Homo sapiens: one gene and its partner. The protein of the gene in region 1 purifies or fractionates together with the protein of each later gene. This does not show direct contact. Each region holds a gene or a part of one and is shown on either strand. Other genes may lie near its edges.

Region 1 (3,759 bases):
TTTTCAGCAATGCCCTACTCCTGGTACCAATTTACTTTATTAGTCTGTTTTCATGCTGTTGATAAAGACATACCCAAGACTGGGCATTTTACAAAAGAAAGAATCTTATTGGACTTAATGTTCCACATGGCTGGGGAAGCCTCACAATCATGGTGGAAGGCAAGGAGGAGCAAGTCACATCTTACGTAGATGGCAGCAGGCAAAGAGAGAGCTTGCTCAGGGCAACTCCCATTTTTTAAAAACTATTTTAAAACGATCAGATCTCATGAGACCCATTTACTATCATGAGAACAGCATGGGAAAGATCTGCCCCCATAATTCATTCATCTTCCACCAGGTCCCTTCCACAACACGTGGGAATTATGGGAGCTACAAGATGGGATTTGGGTGGGAACACAGAGCCAAACCATATCAGGGCAGAAAGCTGTCCTGAAACATGGTAACTCCTGTCGTGAGCTCTTTTGGTTCCCAAACACTGAAGTGGGGCACCTGATAAGGTTTCCTTGTGTTCCTCTTTACCCTTTACCTTAAGACCTGCTCGAAGCATCAGCATAAGAGAGAAACTGAAACAATGAACACCCACATGTGTTAGTGGCTGTCATTCTAGATCCTCTTGGTTTTTTCTGATTTACCCTGCTTTAGTGGGGTTTAGACAGTTTCCAAATCCAAACTTTAACTCTCTCTATGCTGCTGGTTTGGATTAAGACAATCAGCTTTATTCTTCTCTGTAGATGGCCTTGGATCATTTTCCCCTATTAGCTGTTTTGGGATCCTTTTCCAGTCATGACCACATTTTGCTTACAGATCAGCTAGTTGGTAACCACAGCACTGTCTGCTAACTGATACCATTCATTTGACAATTCAGAGTTATGATACTTTGTAGTGCACCCACTGTTCTTCACAGGAAAAAAAAATTGCAGTACAAAGGGTTTATCAGGCCCCCTATCATTCCAGAGTTTCAGTGCTGTTCCAGAATGTTCAAGGTTTCAGTCATGATATGAACCAACTATCCATAAATAATGCAAAAAGCATGAGTAATCATGAATTTAATAATCAAGGTAAGGCAGCTCAGTTATTATACTCAAGAGAGCAACTAGTATGAAACTCTTTCAAATTATTTGAATAAGGATTTACATATTCATAATGACTTTCTGCCTCTGTCAAGCTCCAGGTGTATCAGTTATTAATAACTGGGTGAATATGTAGGTACTATTTAAACAAAAACAATTTCACAGTAGACCCACCCCTATCCAAGAGATGAAGTCAAGTTCTGGTAGCAATAGACATCTCTACCAAGATCTCCTGCTCCTGCCACTCTGTGAACAGGAAAGGAGGGAGAAACTTTGGTGTTTTGCCTTTCCCAATTTATATTAAGATCCTTATTCAAGCGGCTACCGGTTTCTAATGACCTATATGTAAGTTAGCTTTATAAGAAAGTTCTGAGTTTGAAACTCCTTTCAGCAAGTATTTGTAAGTCAAAAAAGCGAAGAAGAGGCACCATTTACTGTCATTTCTCCTTGTGACTGAGATTACTTACTACAAAGAGGAACTGACCACTTTCTCTGACATCTGAAATAGAAAGCTACAAAGGCTGATAGGCGTGGCTTCAAAATTGTTTCATGATTACATAACTTCTTTCTAGTTAGGAATTAGGACAGTGTAAGAAGGCCATCTACAATCAAGATTGAGAGTGGCTCTAACAAGTGCCATTTTTCCTTGTTAGCTTTCATTTCTCAGCCCTTTACAAGATTAAAATAGTCTGCAGTTTAATCTCTCCAAAGCTTTACGGACAGTGATTCTGTCCTAAACAAGACAGTGACTCCAGGATTTCTGAAGACTATTGTGGAAGAAGCATCCATTAAGGTGAGATTTCTGGGAAGTTCTTTAGAGAAAGATCTAGGTATCTAGTTGGTAACCACACCATCTCAGTAGAGAATAATTGCCTGAGACCAGAAGTGTTGTTATCAATCATATTCAGAAAACTGAGAACTGAATGCTTTAACTGTCTAGGTAGCAAATGGATATCTTTTATTCTACCACAATTGGGGTATGAACCAAAAAAATGTATTTTGTCTACAGCAGGTTTTAAAAATTAATTCTTGGGTGTCTTTTGGCATAAATTGATATTTAGAGGAGATACTTGGTTTTCTTGGCTGGAGGATGACTTGGTGACTGGGTTTGGGCCTAAGTTAAAAGACAAGACAGTCAGATAAGAAAATTATTATGAAGTAATATTTAGTAAAAAATAAACCAGGATATAAATCTCTATTATATGATTTTATCTCTATTTTAAAAAGCATAGACATGTGCACACATTAATTTCTCAATTTTACAAGCATTTACTCAAAAATAATCTTTACATTTTCATGAATCAGTTTCATTTTATGCTTCATTTTACAACAAGTGTAAGAAGAAATAATTCTCTTTTTCAAATGGTCTATGCTTTACTCAGTCATAGATAACATTTTTTGTGGCAAGGTATAATGAAAAGACAGGGAGAATCAATTATATATTTCCTACTTTGGGATACATTTTGACTTTTTTATGGCTTTGTACATATGAATGTTTTCTAATTACTCCATGAGTACTTGAGAAGAGTTTATAAACGTTGGATTCCAAATTCTATTTAAGTAAGATAAAGTTTCTTAAGTAAGCTTGTTAATTATGTTTGAAAAATCTAAATCTAAATCTAAGCTATTTTTTACCTTGTTCTTTCAGTAACTGAGAGATGTGGTGAAATCTCCAACTCTAATAGTGATTTTGTTAATTTCTCATTGTAGTTCTTTTGATTTCTACCATATATTTTTACATAGAATATGTATATCTAAGTATATATGTTATGTGTGTGTTTAGAGAGAAGAAAAAACTTCTATATGCTACTTTATAAAGTAATAACAGATTATATTTATAATATAATTTAAATTATTATATCTTTTTCCAAGTTGCATACTTTACCATTATGTAGTGAAACTATGTACTGATACTTATTGACTTAAGCCTATTTTAAGCTACACTATTTTTCCTAAAAAGTCTTTCTTTAAGTTAGAGTTTGAAGAATATAACTTTTCCAGCTCTTTCTCAAACTTAAGTGAACTTATGCTTTATTTGTACTTTGTCAACAACATATGACTGGATTTATTTTTAATCCAAATTGAAAATTTTTCCTCCTAGTTGATGAGTTTAGTCCAGATATGCAAATTCTATAAAGGTATATATTTTAACTTGGTTTTGCCATCTTACTTTGTTTCAATTTATAGCACTTATTCTGTGCTTTCTTCTTCTCCTTTCTTGTCAAGTTTCTTATTTTTAAAAAATCTATATTCTCCTTAAAGACAAGCCCCTTAGCAAACTCTCACATCTTCTGGTCCCCCAAACATACAACTTCACCTGTTAAGAGTATGTTCATATAGTTCCTGTTTTCTTTTATTTGACTCTGGCTTTACTTATTTTTAAGATAGTAAAAACACTAATTAAAGTATTTGCTTGATCTTTCTTCCCTTTTGGCCTCCAACATTTCTTAGATTTATTTCTTTTCATAATGAGTAGTTCTTCACAAAGAGCTGTGGGTATGGATATTTTCACTGCCAAGCTTCTGAAAGCTTTGAATATAATAATTGTTTTCTTTTAATTGTGTTAAGAAACATGTAACATAAAATGTGTCATCTTAATCAGCTTCAAGTGTACAGTTCAGTAGTATTAAATACATTCATATTGTTGTGCAACCAACCTCCAGAACGCCTTTGCATCTTGCAAAACTAA
Region 2 (2,526 bases), on another chromosome or scaffold:
GCCACACAGGCCAGCAACTCGCTGGCCCCCAGTCCTCGCCACTCAGAAATGACCCCTAGCTCTATCCCTTCTTCTGGCCACCCATTCCTGCACCAGGACCACTCAGCACCCCCCATGGCAGGCACCTGGACAGGACTGGGGGCCGCATGCTGGGACTGCGGCTGGCTTCCAGTAGGCGTGGTAGCCGGCTGCGGCTGGTGGGCATGGAGCTGTGTGGCATGGTGTGGGTAGGACTGGTGAACAGTGGCTGCAGCAGGAAAGAGGGAGAACCAGTGCTGAGCACACCAGAGGGGGCTGGCACACAGCCCAGAGCAGAGGGACCAGGCGCAGGACTCACCATAAAGGGCTTGGGGGGTAGGCTGCTCTGCAGAAGGGTACTGAGGGGTAGAGGATGACACGATGGCCTGGGGATGGCTGCCCGACGTCAGCATGCGTGGGTTGCTCTGAAGCATGGGGGCAAACACCGGCTGGCGGGACAGAGAGAGGAGTGGTTGGCACAGCCGCCAGCTGGGAAGGTGTCCTCCTGCCAGTCACTGCGTGCACAGCACCGCTTGGGCCTCCTCACAATCACCCTATTGATTCAACATTCATAACGATCCCACCCAGCAGACACTATTTTCTCTACACTTCAGAGATACAGATGTCCAATGCCTTGTTACAGGTACCACCAGAGCCAGGGCTCAAGCCCAAGTCTGACACCGCCAATACCACAGAGGGCCGATCCCACCTACAACACTGCCTGCCACCCCTAGCCAGCTCCCAAGTCTCTGGAGAAGATGGGATCCCTAGCAGGGGCCCTGGATCCTCACTGCCCTCCTGGGCCGCAGTCACCTGTGAGGGGTAGTGGGCCATGGGCTGCATCATGGCTGGCTGGCCTGGGAACTGCTGAGGGTTGTAGGGGATGTAGGAAGAATAGGGCGTGGCAGCCACCAGAGGCGGGCCAGCAGCCGCGGCGGCCTGCATCATCGGCGGGGCTGAGGCTGGCTGGTGTTGGTCCGAGCGCTGCGGAGGAAGGGAGCCTGGAAGAGGAGGAGGAGAGGAGAGCTCAAGCTCCACCTGCCAGTAGGCCCTTGGCAGCCTCGCCGCCTGCCCCTCCCAGCCCTGCTCACCTTTTGCTCCCCGGTACTTGCCCTGCTGCCCAGGCACTGAATTGGATACAGGATATGGATACATCTGAGGTGCCTGGGGATGAGGACACAGATGAGGCTGAATGACTCGCTCACGAATGCCCAGACAGGCCTGACCTGGTCCCTCAACCAGCGCAACCAAATCCCACCCCGCTAACCCTGGGCCCGGCCAGTCTCTCTGCATACCTGCACAGCTGGTCCCATGTGGATCTGAGGTATGTAGGAGATGTACTGGGGGCTGTATAGCCCACTCTGGCCTGCTGTCAGCACCGGGATGGAGGGAGTTGAATGAGTCCGGGGCCCCGGAGAAGTTGGGGTACTGGTGGATTTATTCTGCAAAAACAAGGGAGGACAATTTTATTTTGTATTTTCCCCTCTACTCCTGGCCATGCCTAGAGTGGTAATAATTAACATTCGTGAAATGCTGCATACCAAACATATTCTGCACTTATCTTGATAAAGCCTCACATTAAACCCTATGAGGAGATGAGTATTCTAAAGTTACAGGTGAGGCAGAGAATGTAAGTGACGTCCAAGATCACAAACCTTCCAAATACAGGGGCTCAAGCCAAGTCAGCTGGCCTCTGTTCATGACTACCCCACTCCAATACTCCCTCAGCCAAATGCCAAGAACCAAAGAAAAGCCTGTTAACCCCTCATCAGACTCACTGGGATCCCTGATCCCCTGATCACCCAAACCTAGAGACCTGAGTCCATTTTCCCCAAGCCAGCCCCAAAGGTGCCATCCTTACATTTTTATGACATCTCCTCACACTGCCTGCCAGGCAAGTGGTCCTGGAAGTGAAGTGTTCCTCCCCCTATTCATCTATAAGCACTGCCCAAGTCTCCCCACAGAAACCAAAGTCCACATTCTCCTGTCCCAGCTCACCACAGACAGCAGAGGCTTTGTAGGATTGAACTCCTTAGCATTAGGGTTCAACGTTGATTTCTTTACTTGTCTGTGAGAGAAAGTACAGTAAATCTTCACGGCTTGCTCTCATCCCTCCTGCCATCCTCCCAGAGCCCCACCCCGCTCCACTCACTCAGCAACAGGGCCCTCATCTTTGTCTTCTCCCTTGATGAGGCCCACCGGGGGGCTGCCAGTTTGGCTTGGACAAGGTGGTGGGGGCTGCTCTGGCCCCTCAGTGCCTCCTGATGGTGCCAGGGGTGGTTTGTCCTCCTTATCCGATACGGACTCTGTCTTGGAGGAGACGGGAGACCCCATGGGCTCTGAAGTCAACAGACCATCAACCTCTTTCTCCTTTCCTTTGGGCTCCTCCTTTAAGATCCGGGGAGGAAAAGGATCCAGGCTGTTCTCAGGGGAGCTACTGGGCTGAAGCTGGAAGAGAGAAACACACACAGTCCAGTCTGACCCAGACCCTAGTCCTGGCTTTCTTCT

The links. The genes of interacting proteins can lie anywhere in the genome.
Region 2: the proteins of MNDA (region 1) and ATXN2L purify together in Homo sapiens (affinity purification with mass spectrometry; one large-scale study listed by BioGRID and IntAct). This does not show direct contact.

What each region holds. Positions count from the first base shown.
Region 1 is NC_000001.11:158,829,695-158,833,453, forward strand, and holds the start of MNDA (myeloid cell nuclear differentiation antigen), read left to right. Parts: upstream 1-1,656; 5' UTR 1,657-1,863; intron 1,864-3,759. UniProt on the Homo sapiens protein: May act as a transcriptional activator/repressor in the myeloid lineage. Plays a role in the granulocyte/monocyte cell-specific response to interferon. Stimulates the DNA binding of the transcriptional repressor protein YY1.
Region 2 is NC_000016.10:28,832,999-28,835,524, reverse strand, and holds part of ATXN2L (ataxin-2-like protein), read right to left. Parts: intron 2,467-2,526; coding exon 2,171-2,466; intron 2,087-2,170; coding exon 2,017-2,086; intron 1,461-2,016; coding exon 1,314-1,460; intron 1,183-1,313; coding exon 1,110-1,182; intron 1,020-1,109; coding exon 832-1,019; intron 468-831; coding exon 338-467; intron 248-337; coding exon 126-247; intron 1-125. UniProt on the Homo sapiens protein: Involved in the regulation of stress granule and P-body formation.